Homo sapiens: one gene and its partner. The protein of the gene in region 1 binds, or shares a complex with, the protein of each later gene. Each region holds a gene or a part of one and is shown on either strand. Other genes may lie near its edges. The genes, in order: HLTF and S100A10. A codon is read from its position in the direction of its gene.

Region 1 (10,433 bases):
ATTAAAAAAATGGCACATTTTATCAAAATTTGACAATTCAGAGTAAAGGGTACTGAAATTTAAGGTTCAGAGCACCAACTTAAAACAACCAAAAAAATGGTTATTCAACTTGGAAAGAGTAACTAGAACCAAGGCATAAAAGGGAGTTTAAGTATGTGTTCCTCCAATTCAAAATCCTTCAGGAATAGGAGTTCTGGCCACTTGTGAGCAACACATCATACCACCAAACCCCAATTCCAGAAAATTACAGTTACAATTTTATAAGGATAAATGATTACTATGCACAATTCTATGGGAATAAGTTTGAATATCTAAATAAAATGGATGCTTTTCTTCAAAAATGTAACTAACCAAAATAGACCAAAGAAGTACCTAAATTATGCTGAGTGAAAAACGCCAGACTTAAAATAGTACATACTGTAGAATTCAATGTATATGAAGTTCTAGAATAGGCAAAACTTATTTATAGTGATAGAAGACTTGTGTGGCCGGGCGCAGTGGCTCACACCTGTAATCCCAGCACTTTGGGAGGCCGAGGCGGGCGGATCACGAGGTCAGGAGATACAGACCATCCTGGCTAACACGGTGAAACCCCGTCTCTACCAAAAATACAAAAAAATTAGCCGGGCATGGTGGCAGGCGCCTGTAGTCCCAGCTACTTGGGAGGCTGAGGCAGGAGAATGGCATGAACTTGGGAGGCGGAGCTTGCAATGAGCCGAGATCCCGCCACTGCGCTCCAGCCTGAGAAACAGAGCGAGACTCCGTCTCAAAAAAAACAAAAAAAAAGAAAAGAAATGAGACTCGTGGCTGCCTAGGGCAGGAACAGGGAAAAATGAATGCAATAGGATACAAGATACTTTGAGGGAGACGGATACAATCTGTATCTTGATTGGGGTAGTAGTTATCAGGTATACATCTTTGTCAAAACACTAGGATCATACATTTAAAATATGTACATTTTATCATACGTAAACCACATCTCAATAAAGTAGAAAAAAAATTAAAATAACAAGTATGCAAAGATAGTATCTCAATTTTTATTATTTTTATAATAGTGATTAACTCAAAAATGTCCATCAACAAGGAAATTATAAGTCCAATATAGATGATATTCCTAATCACATTAGGCATAATATGATCTCATTTTTATTAATACATAATATGATTCCAATTTACATGCACATGCTCACAGAAACAAGTGTAGAAGATAAGTTATGGTTCTGGATGATAGACTTCAGAAGATTTAATGCCTTTTTAGCCATTTAAAAATAATGAACGTGGCTGGGCGCGGTGGCTCATGCCTGTAATCCCAGCACTTTGGAAGGCCGAGGTGAGTGGATCACCTGAGGTCAGGGGTTCAAGACCAGCCTGACCAACATGGCAAAACCTCATCTCTCCTAAATACAAAAAATTAGCTGGGCATGATGGCGCATGCCTGTAATCCCAGCTACTTAGGAGGCTGTTGCAGGAGAACCGCTTGAACCTGGGAGGCGGAGGTTGCAGTGAGCCAAGATTGCACCATTGCACTCCAGCCTGGGCAATGCAAGCAAGACTCCGTTTCAAAAAAAAAACAAAAACAAATAAAAGAACATGCATTAATTATAAAATAAATGATATCTCAACATAGTGTTCCTGGAAAAAAATAAAATTTAAAGTATATATATTTGGCAAAATAAGAAAACTGATGATTACTTTTTATCAACACACACTAGAGTTTACCGAAGTCATAGAGATTATTCTCAGATCAAAAATACTGATTGTTCTAAGATCAATAACTACCATAATCTAGTATTTCATGGTGGTATAAAATAATTATCGAAAGCAATGTAAGTTTTGAAAAATTAGCACAAATCTGAAACAGAAAAGCTCAGAAATGCATATGAGAGCCAGAGAATATATAGATGTGAAATAAGAACTGATAGAGTTCAAGAATCTATTAGAAAAAATTAGAGGCCGGGTGCAGCATCCCAGCACTTGGAGAGGCCAAGGCGGACGGATCACTTGAGCCCAGGAGTTCCAGATCAGCCTGGACAACATGCCAAAACCTAAAAAAAAATACAAAAAAAAAAAATACAAAAATTAGCTGGGTATGGTGGTGAACGCCAGCAGTCCCAGCTACTCAGGAGGCTGAATTGGGAGAATTGCTTGAGTCTGGGAGGCAGAGATTGCAGTGAGGCCAGATCAGGCCACTGCACTCCAGCCTGGGCAACAAAACGAAACTTGGTCTCAAAAAAAAAGAAAAAAAAAAAAATCCAATTCACTTAAGTGAAAGAAAATCACACTGGCCTGAGAATTCTATGCAACATTAGGATATGGAGATTTTATTACAAAGATTTTATTACAAAGATATATTACAAAGATTTTAAATTCAGCCCAACTGTCATTAAGTCCTTCATAACTTTCATTTTATGAAACTGTCATTCATAAAATGCCACAAGTATGAAAATATAAAAACTTAGGAAATATTGTCTCTTCCTAAGGAATCTCCTAGACAACACATTTCAGACAATCAAAAAACAATTTGAAACGTTCCAATGTAAAGGAAATACAGGAGAAAAACAAATCCAGAACATGAAACTCCTAAGGAATCTCCTGTCGAACATGCTTCAGACACCCTATTGAGAAGCTTAAACATAAGAAACATACGGAGAAATGAAAGAATAAAATCCAGAAGATTCCACAAAACGATCTCCTTTTTGCAACAAATCGATGACATGAACAAGGCGCTGGGGTGTGGGGGTGGGGTGCTACCCATAATAACCAAACATAACGCACTGAGGCCAAGCATATTGGCTCATTCCTGTAATCCCAACACTCTGGGAGGCTGAGGTGGGAGGGTCACTTAAGGTATTTGTTATTTTTTGCGTACAAATATTTAACTAACTTAAAGTAAAATAAAGATTAACCGCACACATCACCTGCGAATTCTCTTATTTTCTAGGTTAACGCCAGAAATATAATCAAAATTTAATTATCTACTATTATACTCACTACTCCCGTGTAATAGCGTAGTCCAACCACATGACCTCTCAAACTTCCAAATAAAACGGAATCTACTTCTTCATCACTAGTTAGAAAGTCATCTGGAGGGATAACATCTTGGAATTCAAAACGTGGAAAGAAAGTTGGATATGAGAGGCGTGGAAAATTTCCATGAACTCCATACTGGACAGTCTGCAAGTACTTCCAAACTGGATCCCTATTTTTTTTTAAAGGCAAAGAAAAACAATATAATATTTAAGTATTTCCAAAGACCATATGAGTAGTTTTCTCATGCTTTACTTCAGCAAATGAAATCTTACATGGGAATCACGGTAAAGATTAATAGTTACTCTCGTTAAAGCAGGAATTGCAGTGAGTGGAGAAGGCTTCTAGGAACTCTACCTGTTTTCAATATTGGCTCTTCTACCTGCCCCCTAGGTATTCAAAATGAAAAGCCTAGTCAGAGTTCACTAACCTCTTTCCCAGTGAAAATCATCTAAATTGATATGTATATGATGTCTGTAACTACAATTATGGGCCGGATGCGGTGGCTCACGCCTGGAATCCCAGCACTTTGGGAGGCAGAGGCAGGTGGATCACCTGAGGTCAGGAATTTGAGACCAACCTGGCCAACATTGTGAAACCCTGTCTACTACAAATACAAAAATTAGCCAGGCGTGGTGGCGCCCATATGTAATCCCAGCTACTCGGGAGGCTGAGGCAGGAGAATCACTTGAACCCGGGAGGCGTAGGTTGCAGCGAGCCGAGATTGTGCCACTGCACTCCAGCCTGGACGACAGAGCGAGACTCCATGTCAAAAAAATAATTTAAAAAATGAAATCATATGCCAAAATTTCAATAGGGATTGAGCTATATAAAAGACTTATAAAAATACAACTATTAATGTACCAGAAGTTGTTTATAATTTTCCAGAAAATACATCCAGCATCCATCACTGTAACTCCCTGCGAGCAGAACACCTATTCTGGTATCCAAACCACGCCACCGTGGGAAATTGGCCCCAAGCCACCCGTACCCGCCTTCCGTCGCCGGTTTAAGCATAACCCCAAACCCATTAGGTGTAACTGTTTCGGGAATGACCATAAATACCAATTTGGACAATGAAAAGTGAAGGGGAGTCTACTGGAGCATTGCAAAAAGTTTCCATTCTCCTAAGAACAGTCGCTTATTTGCGATGCGTTTTCCTTGCAAGTGGCGCATATCTCTACTAGCGCCTCTGCAAATACTTATCTGCACGTCTGTGCATACAGATAAGCTGTGAGCCACTTGGGGACAAGGACTGTCTTACTCGGCCCTCCACCGAGCACAATGCCTGGCGCACAGTGGGTATCTAATGGATGTTTTGTTAAATAAAGCACTGGCCGAGATGCTTTAAGCCCCAGGCCCCCCACAGTCGGTGACAGAGATTTCCCAAGTCCCTAACACGGGACTCGCCCTAGGAGCCCCTACTCGCCAGCGAAGACAATGCATTTATTTCTCCGGCGGCCACATATGCGACCAACAGAACGAATACAGCTGCACAAATCGCCCAGGGAACGCAGAGGAACGCGGGGAAGGTCAGGTTCATTTGGGGACGCCTCCAGGCCGTTAGACCGAGCGCCCCACCCCCTCCGCCCCCTTCACCTCTTGAACATCCAGGACATGGCGCTGAGTGGGATGACAAGAGGAGCGCCTCGGCTCCCCTGGATCGTTTTCGAGCCGCCTCGATACGCCTCCTTCCAGGCCCCGCAGCCCTGAAGCCGGGGACAAATTCCGAGCGCCGGATCAGGAGCGCACGACTGAAAGGTAAGTCGCCGCGAGTCCAGTCAGACGTCGACGCCGTCTCCTTCTGCAACAATCTGGGAGACCAGCGTCGCTCTGTGACTGGCACTAGGAAAGCCCAATCACGAAGAGGAGAGTGCGGAGCCAAACCAGTCAGAGCACAGAAGGGAGGGCAACTCCGCCCCGCTGCCATTCAAAGACGGCGGGGGGTCCGGGCTGCAAGGGTGGTTCCATCCGGGTTCTTCCCCGCCCCCAAGGCGGGCGCGCGGGAAAGCCACGAGGCCCCAGGAGTGCGACTGCGGTGCCTGCGGTGCCGGTGTTTTGTTTGATTCCCTGCCTCAAACGGAGGGAAACGACCTTCCTTTATCCTACGAGTCCTAAGACTGAACCCCATTCTAAAGGCTCTACCGTATCCTTCCTCTTATTTTCTTCTCATCTAATGTGGCACATAATAGGGCCTTATACTAAAGGAGCTCCACGGTTTACGAGACCTAGAGCTACCGGCGAGATACTTTACTTCATTCCCTGTGGTGAACCGTGGGGACTTTCGCTCCAAATTTTCATGTTAAGCCTCAGCGTATGCATGAGACACAACGAGTTTGGAAAATCTTAAATGGAACTTAGAGTCCCCTCCCCACCTCTTTTTGTTATTTTTAAGGAAAATTTTCCTTTCTTGGTGCAGGAAACCCATCACATGTTTATTACAGCTATGGGGGCGTTTGCCTGAAATGGTGGACGGGACCATTTTCCCCGTGGGCACTTGGCTGCTCCAGCCAAGAGGGGGAGGCCCTTGTTTTCCTCAAGGAACTGCAGAGGGGCGCTCTGAGGCCCTCCATGGCTCTCTTTCCAGAGTCTGAGGTGACCGGAAGGAGAATGCGGCCCTGGGACCGTCAACCTTGGACCAGCTGCAGCCGACGCCTGGCAGGGCTGGTCGCTTTGCGTTGAGGAGGCTGCTGTCCCCGAAGCTGGCCTTTTAATCGCACAGGGCAGGAAGCTGGTGGTGGCGCCCAGCTGCACAGGCGGCACCATGTAACTGCCAGATAATACTTGCGCGTCACAGAGAGGTCCATGTTACACGCCTGTCAGCACAATAATATTAGGTGGTCAGCTTTTCTTTTTTCTTTTTTTTGTTTTTTTTTCTTTTTTATTGAGATGGAGTCTTGCTCTGTCCCCCAGGCTGGAGTGCAATGGGGGTGATCTTGGCTCACTGCAACCTCCGCCTCCCGGATTCAAGCGATTCTCCTGCCTCAGCCTCCGGAGTAGCCGGGATTGCAGGAGCCCGCCACCACGCCCAGCTAATTTTTGTATTTTTAGTAGAGACGGGGTTTCACCATATTGGCCAGGCTGGTCTTGAACTCCTGACCTCAGGTGATCCGCCCGCCTCGGCCTCCCAGAGTGCTGGGATTACAGGCATGAGCCACCGTGCCAGGCCGGTAGTCAGCTTTTCAAGACACATTTGTTCATTATCGTAAATAAACTGTAGTGATCTCTAATCATGAACCATGGATGAGCAATAGAATTTGAAACAATGTATTATTTCATTTGACCAAAGTTGATGAGGAAGATAAAGACAATGGCATTTCAAATTATTTTAATTGTTGTATGTTCTTCTTGAAGTGTGTTGAGGCAAATGGCAATACAGTTCAGCTTTTAGTATGCCAGATTTTAAATAAATTCTTGGAAAATATGCCAGAAATTGCTCAAATTGATGTTTTGTAAGAGTAAGAAAGTCATGCTCACTAGACAAAGAAAAAATTCCAAATATGAGAACATAGCTCTTTCAGACTTAAGACTGGCCAGGCGCAATGGCTCACACCTATAATCCCAGCACTTTGGGAGGCCGAGTTGGGTGGATCACCTGAGGTCAGGAGTTCGAGACCAGCCTGGCCAACATGGTGAAAGCCTGACTCTACTAAGAAAATACAAAAATTAAGCAGACGTGGTGGCACGCACCTGTAGTCCTAGCTACTTGGGAGGCTGAGGCAGGAGAATCGCTTGAACCAGGGAGACATGGGTTGCAGTGAGCCGAGATCAAGCCACTGCACTCCAGCCTGAGCAACAGAGCGAGACTCCATCTCAAAAAAATAAAAAGACTTAAGATCTATGAATAATGACTGTCCCATGGTTAAAGAATGTGCTTTGAATGAACTAAAATTTGCTATTTAAAGGAATGGTATGGAAAGGAAAGGAATCCAAAATTTCTCCATCCAGCCACTTCCCAGTCACAAACACACTTCTCATCTGCACCCCCAGCCACACACACACACATGCCCGCGCGCGCGCACACACACACACACACACACACACACACAGAACCTTTATGCAAATTAATCATGTCATGTCACTCCCCTGTTTGATTCAGTGAGCCTGAAATCCAAGAATGGCATATGTGGCTCTTCCTCCCACAGTATGTTTTCTCTATGTTATCAATATTTCACATCCCAGAACCAGGAGTAAAACATTCTTTCCCTTAATCATTCTTTGTTTTATATTTAAAGATCAAGTACAATTTGTACTAGTTTGATTAAAATGTTACAGCAATTACAATTTCAAAACTATTATACTAAATAATGTTTTCTGAAAAATTAACTTTTTTGGTTTTTTCTTGATTTATTCTGATAACAGCATCACAAGTAGATATGAAAAATGAACACTTGTAACTGGAAAATGAACTGTAGGGTGGCTTGTGGGGTTTGGCTGGTGAGTAAGAAGGAAAGTGGCACTAAAAGGACGGTGGGGAAGATAAGGGCCAGGTTACATAGGAACTTAAGAGTCTCCAGTAAAATTTGTGTTTTAACTGCAATGGAAAGCCATTGAATGTTTCGAGCAGGAGGATAACGACTTGATTTAGGCTTTTAAAAATGCTGGCAGCTCTGTGGAGAATTACAGGAAACAAGGATAGAAGCAACTGATAGAAAATTATTGTGTTCAGATAAGAGATGGTGGTGGCTTGGAAAGGGAAGGTGATGAAGCCAAGAGAACCAAAATGTTCACTGATAAATTTAGGTAGGAATGGTATGGAAAGGAAAGGAATCCAAAATTTCTCCAGCCAGCCACTTCCCAGTCACAAACACACTTCTCATCTGCACCCCTAGCCACACACACACATGCCCGTGCACACACACACACACACACACACACAGAACCTTTATGCAAATTAATCATGTCATGTCACTCCCGTTTGATTCAGTGAGCCTGAAATCCAAGAATGGCATATGTGGCTCTTCCTCCCACAGTAGCTTCATTTCTCGGGTCACTTCCCAACCCACCCTGCCTATAATGGCCTTCACTAATTTCTCTAAAAACCATGGACCTGGCAAAATTAATAACAAATCACTTCTTAGTATCTTCTAATAACTAGTTCATAATCAAATGTTCACAATTGTCTCAAAAAAAAAATTTTTTTTTTTCTTGAGACAGGGTCTCACTCCAGTAGCCCAGGCTGGAGTGCAGTGGCGTGATTCGACCTCCTGGGCTCAAGCGATTCTCCAGCCTCAGCCCCCAAGTAGCTGCGATTACAGGCATGGCACCACCACCCCCAGGCTAATTTTTGTATTTCTTGTAGACAGGGGGTTTTGCCACATTGGCCAGGCTGGTCTCGAACTCCTGAGCTCAAGCAATCTGCCCGCCTTGGCCTCCCAAAGTGCTGGGATTACAGGCGTGAGCCACTTTTTCTAGGCCTTTTCTAGGCTGGGTGTGGTGGCTTACGCCTGTAACCCTGGTATTTTGGGAGGCCGAGGTGGGCAGATCACTTGAGGCCAGGAGTTCAAGACCAGCCTGGCCAACATTGTGAAACCCTGTCTCTACTACAAATACAGAAATTAGCAGGGGGTGATGGTGCCATACCTGTAGTCCCAGCTACTTGGGAGGCTGAGGCAGGAGAAGCACTTGAACCCAAGAGGCGGAGATGGCAGCGAGCCGAGATCGTTCCACTGCACTCCAGCCTGGGTGACACAGCGAGACTCCCTCTCAAAAAAAAATGTTTTTTACACTTTGCAAAATAGAATTTTAAAGCCATTGGTGTGGGGGCAGGGACCAGGCAGCAGGGAGGGGCTTTAAGAGAAGAATCTGAATATCTAGAAATCTGGCTTCAATACAGAAACTTTTAAGCTTATATCATAACTCATAGACTGAAGAAAGTAGGATGATGTAAGAGCTTGCTTGTTTGTTCGCTTCTTTCACTCCAAAGGAGATAAAAGTTCAATTGAGGAGAATTTTCAAGAATGTCAGGCAGGAGGGTTTGCAGAGTAAATCCCTTAAGTGGGTCTTAGAGAGAAGACCTAGAATACCATCACACTGGGCCAATCTGCACAAAGGGAGAATGCTAGAAAGTCTAGCAAAGTTTCTGTAGATTACACAAGAAAAGGAAGCTATGCCACATTTCCCAGAGAGTGGCCTCAGTATTCTGCAGATCTCAGAGAGAACCTCAGAGACTAGAAATGTGCCAAGGCAATAAAGGAGTAAAGGTGACTGAGGTGGCTCTGTTAAGGGGACCCGGGGTAGCCTTGTGAGCCTCTAGCCCTGTGAAGGCTGGAGGGCATCATCAGGATTATGGTTCTAGCAAACAAAAGCAGGATGCTGGTCCCCAACGGTGAGGTGAGATGAGTTACATCTGCAATGGGTGACTGCATTAGATGAATGGAGTCCAAATATAACCTCCCTGGTGGGTAAGACGAAGGGAACTAAATCTGAAAGCTGAATTTAAATGACTTTAAATCTTAAAATGACTGAACTATTCAGAAGTGACTAAATTAGGTTACCTGCCATTAGGCAGAATGAAGGTTTAAGAAAAATTAAGTTCAATAAAGAAATATAAAGTTTTACATTTGCAAATATAGTCAGTGATTGAAATTCATACATGCTATATGTCCATATGCACACATCTTGATGAAGATATACCTAGATATTTATAGTAAATACCTCTAGCTGGTTAAATTAGGGAATTTTCATTTTCTTCTTTTTACTTATATGTATATAAAATATTTGCTACATTAAACATGTATTTCTTTTTGCCATAATAAAATAAAATGAGTAATTTATTAAAGAAATGATGAACTATTATTCAGCTTTATTTTTATCTAATTGTAGACTTACAGAAAATTACAAATTTAGTACAAATTGTTGCCTCATATCCTTTATGCCACTTATTTTAATACCGTACATAACTATAGTACAATGACCAAAATGAGGATATGAACATTGGTACAATACTATTTCTGAACCATTTTTTTAAATAACCAAGACAATGCAGTGGAAAAGAAAATATAATATTTTGTGACTTATTAAATTTTCTTATAATCAGGTTTCTCTAGATTTTGGACAAAATCCTGAGTAAAACCACAGCTGACAGGGCCAAAGTGATATTAAATTAATGCCAAGTAAAAATCTTCTTAATTAAATAATATAATGAATATGAAGTGCTGCCCTGGAGTAAGCACTCAGTAAGTGCTCTTATTGTTGTAATAGAGTTATTGTCTAACGAGTCCTCTAGCACTTAAGAAATATGGTTGATTGAGGCCTATTTTCCTTATTGAGGCTCAATCAGCAGGGTTGTTCCTAAATAGCAGAATAACACTGTTTCCAGAAGCCAGTCATTTTTCCAGGTGCACGTCCTTGAAGTAGACTGAATTGTTTCATCAAGCGGTAGGAGACACTCTAATCTCAACTCC
Region 2 (9,942 bases), on another chromosome or scaffold:
GCCTGAATGAAGAGTGTTTTCTCATTTTGCCAGTTCTGTGAGAAAAGCTCTGCTGTGTAAGAAAAGCTCTGCTGTGTGCTGGCTGCCCAAGGGCAAGCTGCCTCTTGGGGAACAAGAATTTCTGAGGGAACAACAAACATTCTGTCTCAAATTTGGAACTAAAAAAGAACTTTATTTATTGAGGGCAAGGGGATGCAAACAATACAAAAATCAAAAGCTTATCTGGTATTTAACTTTTCTTTCTCTGCTTGTCAAATGAGAGTTAGATTTTATTTTTACATTTGCTAAGTGTCCTGATCTGCTCATGAAATCCTTCTATGGGGGAAGCTGTGGGGCAGATTCCTTAAGCGACCCTTTGGGACAACTCTTATCAGGGAGGAGCGAACTGCTCATTTCTGCCTACTTCTTTCCCTTCTGCTTCATGTGTACTACAAAATAGTCATTGCATGCAATGGTGAGGCCCGCAATTAGGGAAAAGAAGCTCTGGAAGCCCACTTTGCCATCTCTACACTGGTCCAGGTCCTTCATTATTTTGTCCACAGCCAGAGGGTCTTTTTGATTCTGAAAAAAAAAAGAACAAAGGCAAGAAATAGAAGTCAAAGGTTGCAATGAGGAGCTTATTTGATTTGTACTGCTGAGAACTGTGTATATATCTCCCAATTACTTGAGCTCTTGTTTTAGGTCATAAGCAACCTTTGGAGTTCATCTAAATGTATTTTTTTTTTTTTTTGCCTTGTGGGAGCATTTCAGTAATTTCATATTTAGATTCTGCCTAAGAACCACCCTAAGCTCCTCATTTTATGGTTTAAACTTACATTCTCTTATTAAAATTTTATTCCTAATGGCATGGTCAAATCCCTTACAAAGGAAACTCCTTATGAAAAGATATTTATGATTTAGGGAATAAGTTTTGGATCACTGTCCTATGGATTTTAAAGAGGTGTTAATGATGCCATGGGTTGGTTTTAGGTTTGGAGAAGGCAGCTCTCATTCTTGGCACAGCTGAGGACAAGCTAGTGTGGCTTCATATCATATTAGCCACGTGATGCTGAGTGAACCACACAGCTTAGTGGGCCTTTGTGTATCAACGATGAATTGAGGAGGTTGGACTATAATGTTTCTAGAATCCTTTCATTCTTTGAGTTGGTAAGTCTATGCCATCCTATACTCTTCACTGGATGTTGTACACTGGACCAGTTTCAAAAGGAGTATGTGGGATGGAGTCTTAAACTCCCCATGACTCTCAGTGCCTGGTAAGAATGTATGGAACAGAGATGGGCAGGCAAGACCCCCTTTGCTTTTATCTTGCTTACATGGTGATTGGCTTCAGCACTCCTTTTTGTAGTGATGCTGGTCAGAAGCGGTAAGGTGTGGTTTTTCCTGTAGGGTCCATGCCATCAACCAGAGAGAGAAATATGGCCTATTTGAGGTTGTTAAAGGGCTCAGGTAAACTATTTATGAATTCTGATGACTATATTCATGAGTGAGGAAAATGATACGCAGTGTTTCAAGTGTGCTAGATGTTTCTAAATTGCACTCAGAAATTCCTAAAAGTATAGCAGCAGCATTTCCCACATGAGCACTGCAAACTCCTACTCTAGCTAAACGTGCTCTATGCAGCTCTTGGTGGGTTTCAGCTAATTCTGGCTTCACCCTCAGCTTCCTGGCTGTGGTCAGAATGAGTGAAATCTGGATGACATAAGAGGTCTACTTTAGAAACAAAATGCTCTGTTAATGCAGTGAGTCTAGATGTTTCCAGAATTATGACTCTGTGCCTGGAATAAATTACCCTGCCATGGTTAGTGCTCCACACTACATATACCCTTTATGTGTCTGATGCCACAAAGCCTTTAGGAAGAAAGGGTCTGTGTCTTACATGATACTCACTCTGGCTCTTAACAACACTCTTAACAAGTGTTTAGTGTACTGAGAATGCCTTTGTCTATAGGACAGGCAGGCTTACAATGAGCACATTTTGTCCTTGCATCTTAATGCTTGTCTTGAATGATCATAGAAAGTGAAAGTGACCTTGCAGATAATTATGTCCAGCCCTCTCTAATTTTACAGGGGAGGAAACTGAAGACTAGAGAGCTGAAGCAACCTGCCCATTGTTAGTTAAGGCAGAGCCAGATCTTCTAACTCCTGGTCTGGGGCTATATCACAGGACTCTACAAAAGCAGAGGACCTGCATATTCTAACTCATTCTGGGATAGCATTAGGTAATAACTGCAGCTCTGAGAGAGCAGTTAGGCTATTTATATCTGTTTATTTAACTGATATTGATGACATACGAATTATAGTATACTAAAAAGCCTCATGTTTATTGATTGCAGGAGTCAGGGGCTGGACTAATGTGCCGTTTACCAGTCAGATGACAAGAGGCAGGACCCAACGTTTTACCGTATCTCCTCTCACCCTTTACAGGTTAATGCATTATTCAACACCAAGCACAGAAACAATCTTTTCAGGTGACTACAATTGTGGTAGGGAAAGAAGGGCTTGCATTTCAGTCTACTATTTTGTCATGCAATGTTGCACCTTCAGTTGAATTCAACAGCCACCTCTCGAGAACCTGGAATATAAAAGGACAACTGTGCCTTGTGGCCCCATGTCCTGAGTGATGTATCTGAGCTGATGGCAGAGTCCTCTTATAGGTCTTCATGCATCTCTCAGTCTGTCAAAGGTGAGACATAAATTCAAACTGCTCCTGTGCTGTCAGAGCATTATTATGTGAAAAGCAGTTATTTCTGGAGTGATATGTGGCTTTTATTCAGTAGATGACTGACACTGCTCCTTTGTAGTATTAGAAAAAGAAAAAACAATCCCTTTATCTGAAGAGATTTAAGAAGGGAGATTCGAGTTGCTCAAAATGGAATGTGACCAGGATGTGGCATCTCCACCACCAGGTTTTTGGACCTGAAGGTAGCCATTTTCTGGTTGACTACTCTTTTGTGAAAAGCTTTCTTTCTCCCAACTCTGTCCCCAACATCGTCACAACAGACACAGATAACCCGATGGAATTTTCCAACAAACAGCTCATATTGTGGTTATTTGTATGCAGTCTTATTTCACCTGCAGACTGTAAGCTCCTTGAAGGTTGGGGCTGTGTCTTCATTACTTTGTTTCCTCAACAGTATCTTACAAATAGCAGGTACTCAATACTATTTAATAAATGAATGAATGAGGTCATTCATTCATTCCTTCAGGTGACTACATTCATTTATTCACTAGTGGTGACCTCCACAGGGAAGGGATGGAAACAAGAAGGAAAAGGAACCAAGGCCTAGAAGCATTGACTTTTATGTCTGGTTCTTTGTAAGCTTTTCAACACTTACTTCCAAAAATCCAGGGAACTCCTTTTCCATGAGTACTCTCAGGTCCTCCTTTGTTAAGTAGCCTTTATCCCCAGCGAATTTGTGAAATGTAAACATCATGGTTTCCATGGCGTGTTCCATTTGAGATGGCATTTTGGTGTGGTCCGTTGAAGCCTATTAAAGGATGTAAAGTAACAGGGTCTACATTAACTTTTTTTGGCAGACTTTATGCATGAATTTATTTTTTTTAAATTGAAAGATAAAATTGTATGTATTTAATGTGTACAACATGATGTTTTCAGGTATATATACATTGTGGGATGACTGAATCTAGCTAATTAACATATGCATTACCTCCCATAGTTAGCACTTCTGTGGTGAGAACACTTAGCCACTCTTAACTATTTGTCAAGAATACAATACATTGTAATTAACTATAGTCACGTTGTTGTACAGTAGATCTCTTAAACTTATTCCTCCTAACTGAAATTTTCAATCTTTTGACCAATAGCTCCTCAACATCACTCAAATGCAATCACCCCAGCCCATTCTATTCTTTAGTTCTATGAAATTCAGTGTTTAAGATTCCACATGAGTGAGATCATCTGGTAATTGTCTTTCTGTGCTTGGCTTATTTCACTAAGCGTAACGTCCTCCAGGTTCATCTTTGTAGATTTACATTAACTTTTAAGCCATATGTATTGCCAGCCTTTTTAGGATAATTGGAAAGATGGAGATTAGATCATCCATCTGATCTTCTCCAGCTTTAAAATTCAGTGAATGAATCTAAGAACCAGTCCACCCCAGTTTGGGTCCCTTGTTGGTAGAAATAGACACCTCAGATACTGGTGCTGTAAATAAAGGGGTTTAGCTAACTCCAGCTAATTTGCATGAATAATCTAATGAAGAATAGAAACTAATAATTTAGAAAAGCAACATCAGTGTTCCTCTTTTTTTTTTTTTTTTTTTTTTTTTTGAGACGGAGCTTTGCTCTTGTTGCCCAGGCTGGAGTGCAGTGTTGTGATCTTGGCTCACTGCAACCTCCGCCTCCCAGGTAGCTGGGATTACAGGCGTCCGCCACCATGTCCGGCTAATTTTTTGTATTTTTAGTAGAGGCGGAGTTTTGCCATGTTGAGCAGGCTGGTCTCAAACTCCTGACTTCAGGTGATCCGCCCACCTCGGCCTCCCAAAGTGCTGGGATTACAGGCCACTGCGCCCGGCCCAGTGTTCCTCTTTTTAACTGACAAAGCACCTACTGAAAGAACAGATAGTTCATAATTTCTCTTGGCACTAGTAAATGGGATTCTTAGATATGGCTGATACTAACAATCCACACAGTCAAGTCTGGTAAATACGAAAACTTCACCCTTCTAAGCTTAAAGTGGTAACTTGGTTCAGTGTGATTCTAGGGTTTAGAAATCTGCTTACAAATGAATTTATCTGCTGGGTATATATGTATTCTTTTTTTTTTTTTTTTTTTGAGACGGAGTCTTGCTCTGTTGCCCAGGCTGGAGTGCAGTGGCGCCATCTCGGCTCGCTGCAAGCTCCGCTTCCTGGATTCACGGCATTCTCCTGCCTCAGCCTCCCGAGTAGCTGGGACTACAGGTGCCCGCCACCGCGCCCGACTAATTTTTTTGTATTTTTAGTAGAGATGGGGTTTCACCGTGGTCTCGATCTCCTGACCTCGTGATCCGCCCACCTCGGCCTCCCAAAGTGCTGGGATTACAGGCGTGAGCCACTATGCCCGGCCTATATGTATTCTTTACTAAAGCTCTGAACTTGTTATTTACTGCAATAAAGACAGTTGCATCTCTGGCAGTAAAATACAGTTGCTCTACCCAAACAGAAAACTACTCAAAGTCCATTGTCTAGTTCACTTGAGAAGCAACAAGTAATACTATAACCTAACTCATTTGAGGGCCTCCTATGTTTTTAGTGACATTAGACAGATGAGCTGCTCTCACAGTCTGGGGTACAGTGGGAAAGCAAGAGCTTTCATCATGAAGCGTTTATAAGAAAGGAAAGGAAACATGTCAGATCATTACATTTGGGTATAATGAACTAGGGGTATATGTCTCACAAGACCCAGTACGTGGTACTTAATAGAACCTCAGTGAATTTTGGCTTAATTGGAAGGAATCATTTGGCGAGAACAGATAAGCTTTGGCTAATATCACCTAAAATCACTACTGGATAGGAAACAGGTGAACGTGAATGGAGACTGTAATATAGCACTAAAAAATAAAAATAAATAATCACAAGAATAGGCTTTGAGCTTAGATTGAAGGGCTGGCAAATTCCTCTGCTGAAGAGCTCTAATGGGAACCTGAGACATGCTTTGGTCTGGTTCCTATCTCTGAGAGATGCCTGTTCAACACTGATTCTCAAATGCTATCTTTTACAGAGGAGAAGGTGGAGTGGGTAAACATGAGGATTGAGCAATTAACACTTAAGAATTGTAAATTCTACCCCTTAATCTCCAGAAAAGTATGGGAACCAGCAGGCCAAAGAATGCTATAAATCAGAATCTGGCATGAGTCATCTGAAAGGCAGTTAGTTATCTTGGAGAGAGCTGCAAATTAATGCTTCAAGGTCTGCTGTGAGATGAATTCCAGGGGAACCACACCCTTTTCCTTCTCTTCTGACACAGCTCAGATCTGGCTCATCCCCCATCCCTCATATGGGTTTCAGATGGCAGTGGGCTTACAGAGAGTCTGCCTTGCCTGGACTGGTACTCCAAGTCCAGCAATTTAAGAGAACTGAACTGGGCGAGTCACCTCTGGGAGAAGGACGTGGGATCCCACCCCAGTTCTTAAATAACTCAGGAAAGGAGTCAGACACCACAGAGGTTTAAAAATACCTGTGCTCAAGTTCAGAGCAGCAGAGCACTTCAGGATCAATTCCCAAAGATCCCAGAAATTGGAACTGGGTGGGGTACCTAGTTTACTTTTTTCAGATGACAGGACAGAAGGAAAGTGCAGAATTAAGAAAGGGAATGCAGCAGGGTAAGGACCTCTAAATTTTAAAAAGGCTAATTTTAGGAGGTTCTAAGAAATACAAGTTGTCAGCTGAGGAAATCCTGGCCACCCTTGAGTATCTTCTTCAGGAGAGCAAGGTGAGTCTACCTCACACTGTGTGAGTGCTTAGGTCTGAAGTCACTCAGTCGCATGCCTCTCTTGCCCACAGCCATTACGAAGTGACGGAGCTTCCTTCTCTGAAGTTACATCCTTCTCCCACTTGGTCTTCCCCTCCCCTCCTCCCCCAGCGGTTTTATTCAGTGGATGGATTGTGAATATTGCAGCCAGCTGACTCCCTGTGTGTCCAGTAGGCCTTCTGCAATAAGGATGCAGAGGAGGGAGTAGCCAGGAGGTGAAAATAGCATTGAAAATCAGTGGAGAAGCCCTTGTCTCCTCAGCAACCAGTACCCCAAAGGGCACTGACCAGGGCCACAGCAAGGAACTCTGTTTTGGGGAAGGAGTTGCACACTGGCTTTAAAATAAGACAAAGGAAAGGGGGAAATGTTGTGATTAAAACTCTGTTCTCTTGGCTAGAGGATGAATCATGTAACTCTTGTCTGAGTGCAGCCAATGGTTGCCCAACTGAGTCAGCCCTGCCTGGCCCTCCGTTCTTGGGTGGGGCTTGCCTGGGCAGGGCTGTCTGCAGCACTGCTAGCTGCCAAAACTGAAGTTCTTCAGGGACTTCAATCTGGCATTTCCACCCTCACGTAGCCACTCTGCAAGCTCTATTCCTGGACAGATGTGGGCTTCCTGCATCCTGGTTAGACACATTTTGACAGGAGGGCCTTGGGGCTGGGGCTGAGGGGCTGCAGTGTCCTCTCTATCCCCAATAACGTACTCTTGCACCTGAAACATTCAATTTCATTTAATTGTTTACTTGTCTGCCTGAGATTTAAGCTTCTCTTGATTAAGAACTACAAATTATTCTGCTTTTATTCATGGAGCACTATATAACTGTTATGTGCATAAATGAACCACACAATCCCTTGGGCAGTAGCTGAGGTGCAGGTGTGATTACCCAGGACTAGGCTGAAAGCCTTGTAGCTCAGAGCTCAGGAGGACGATGTGAGAGCTGGGAAGGGCCAGGAAAGGGGCCCCAAAAGTGTTCAACTATGAACGGAACAGTAGATAGAGTACACAGGAGTGCACATTCCATACGCAAAAGGAAAAATATGTGTCCTGCTAAACAGGTCTAGTCAGAATGACATGACTGTGCTCCTTCTCTTCTAACACTTGCTATTTTCTCGTGTTTCATTCATCCCATCTTCTACTTTTTGCTTTTCTAGTGCTGCTATCTCACTGCTGAGCTCCACAGGATAATAACAGCCTTGCTGTCCACTCACCTTTTATTGAAGTATTCTAATCTGATGCCTATACATGCCCTCTACATGTTTGTCTGAGCAACAGGTCTTAAGAAGGGAGGCGGAGACATCTTTCTCTGCATAGTTTTCTCTATGGAAAACAATTCTGGACTCCACAAATTTAGTTACCTTAGGAGGAATTCAATTTTCCATTTTTGGTTCTCCCTCCCTGAGCACCTACTTTGAATGTCCCAGACATGGTGTTAGGCATGAGGGTGTTCACACACACATACACACATGCACACACACACAAAGCTCTCCATGGTGCTTGCCTTTGAGGAGTTCACCAGCTAATGGAATACTATTAAAGCATTTGGCCTGAATTCTAGTTATTTGTGTTTCTGTTTCTTTCCTCACTAGGTTGCAGGTTTTTTGAGCAGGGTCCCAATAGCCAGTGCCCCAGCCCTCATAGAGCCTGCTCGATGAATTGTTAAGAAATTGATAATGATGTATTTTGGTTGTCCTGCGAGTAGCAGACAAGCAGGAGTCCTCCTCAGAAAAGTGTCTGCTCCTGAAAAATCTCAAATGTTTGCTTTGGACCTATGCCCAGATCCCGGCTGCAGTTTCAAAGAGGACACTTCTGCAGAGTGAGTCGGACTTGCTTTGCTCCTCTGTGTCTTGTCCATACCCTAGTTTTCTTACAGCCCACCCAGAAAATAAACGGCAGGGTGTCAGTAAAAACAAACATCTGTTATTTAAAATATGTTTGAGGTTTCCTTCCTTTTGCTTTAGAAATTTTGGAGTTTTTAAAATTGAACCCAGAAGGCATTCTTAAATTTGATCTCTGAAGGGAATTCAGAAAAAATGAGTTGAAGCAATGGATCTGGATCCAGGCTGTCTCTCTCACCTCTCACCAACTAAAACTTGCCCACTAAAGAACTGGGCAGCAAAGGAACGTTTCAGATGCAATTCAATAGGAAGAAAGAACTTGGAAGAAACCTCCTTCAATCTAACCAACTACATCAATTTTTCCTTAAAGAATGCTTAGGCATCAGCCTAATCAGCCAACATAGCTACTGTCAAAACTGCTTTTAGTTAAATCCTTTGGTAGGATGGGTGGTATTTATTTAGTAAAGGGATAGAAAGTGCTGAAAATTGTTTAAAAGAAGTACATTCTTTCTTTTTGCTTTTGATGTGGATTCCTAAATTTGTTGAGTCCCCAGAAAAATGAGAAACTTAAGATGTTAAAATTTTAGTCCAGCTTTCTCAGCACTTTGAGTGCTAATTTATACATTATAATCCTGAAAGAATTCCATTGTTTCTCTCAACTTTACGCTTTAAAAGACTGGACTGTGTCCAAGGGTATACCAAGTGGGTTGTGCTCTACAAAAGTCACATTTTTTGAACTGTCAGTAGAAAGCAGGGAGGCACACAGTCTCAGCTCCACCCTGACCTCACTGGAGTGGCTGCTTAGGAGGCTGGCCAGCACACGGGAGGAAAGGGGCCTATATGATGTGTCGGAGAAAAGCTAGGAAGAGCATCACCCAGAAAGCAGGGTAAGACCCAAAAATTGCTTCATGCCCAGTAGACCAAAAAAATTGTAAGAACCTAGATAAGAAACTCCAAATGGTGGATCAAGGGCCACAGTGAAGAAACTATCCTCTGGCTGTGAAGGAACAAATACACCATTTGGAAGGGATGATTAAAGAGAAACTGGATAGGAATCTGTGGGGGCAGGGCCGATGAAGAAACTTCCAATAAGTTATATGAACTCATTCCCACTCCAACCCCTGGCATTATCTTTTGCAATTTGCTGAAACATGTTGGAGGCAAAGATCACCGACTGGGTGTTTCCATGAGCCTGGCCTCACCTAAAACGCACAACATAAAACTCCATTCCTGGAGACTGAAACTCAAGCTTCTGGGGAAAAATATCCGCAACAACTGCAAACCTCTTAGCGGGAAAAGCTACCTCCCAAGTAAGGCTGAGGCAGGCTGCCAGGCGCATACTGGCCGATAACGAAAAGCGGTCTCGCCAAGGCCCTGCAGATCTAATTACTGCCCTCACCGGCAGTTCAGTCGAGAAACCTCTCCTGCAGACTGGCAGCCAGACCAGGTGTGACTCACTTCCTCTTGGAAAATGCCCTCTGAGATGGCACAGTTCTCCTTTTCCTTCAGGGAGTGTTCTGTCCAAACCATCCACCGAGAGTATCTGCAACCGGCCACACCCACATGGTCTCACAGCTGAGTCACAGGCCTCAGACCACTGGGAGAATCCTGGAGCCCTTTGTGCTAACCACGCCCTGCAGA

Evidence for each region.
Region 2: the proteins of HLTF (region 1) and S100A10 are in contact, whole or in part, in a crystal structure (PDB 4HRE), measured with the Homo sapiens proteins. Residues at the interface, in NP_001305864.1 of Homo sapiens: Thr32, Phe33, Phe34, Pro35, Phe37, Phe39; in NP_002957.1 of Homo sapiens: Phe42 (codon at 3,344), Asp58, Leu59, Asp60, Gln61, Gln70, Ser74, Leu75, Ala77, Gly78, Leu79, Ile81, Ala82, Tyr86.

What each region holds. Positions count from the first base shown.
Region 1 is NC_000003.12:149,081,691-149,092,123, forward strand, and holds the start of HLTF (helicase-like transcription factor), read right to left. Parts: upstream 4,844-10,433; 5' UTR 4,647-4,843; coding exon 4,627-4,646; intron 3,200-4,626; coding exon 2,992-3,199; intron 1-2,991. UniProt on the Homo sapiens protein: Has both helicase and E3 ubiquitin ligase activities. Possesses intrinsic ATP-dependent nucleosome-remodeling activity; This activity may be required for transcriptional activation or repression of specific target promoters.
Region 2 is NC_000001.11:151,982,764-151,992,705, forward strand, and holds the end of S100A10 (protein S100-A10), read right to left. Parts: intron 3,489-9,942; 5' UTR 3,468-3,488; coding exon 3,336-3,467; intron 562-3,335; coding exon 400-561; 3' UTR 152-399; downstream 1-151. UniProt on the Homo sapiens protein: Because S100A10 induces the dimerization of ANXA2/p36, it may function as a regulator of protein phosphorylation in that the ANXA2 monomer is the preferred target (in vitro) of tyrosine-specific kinase.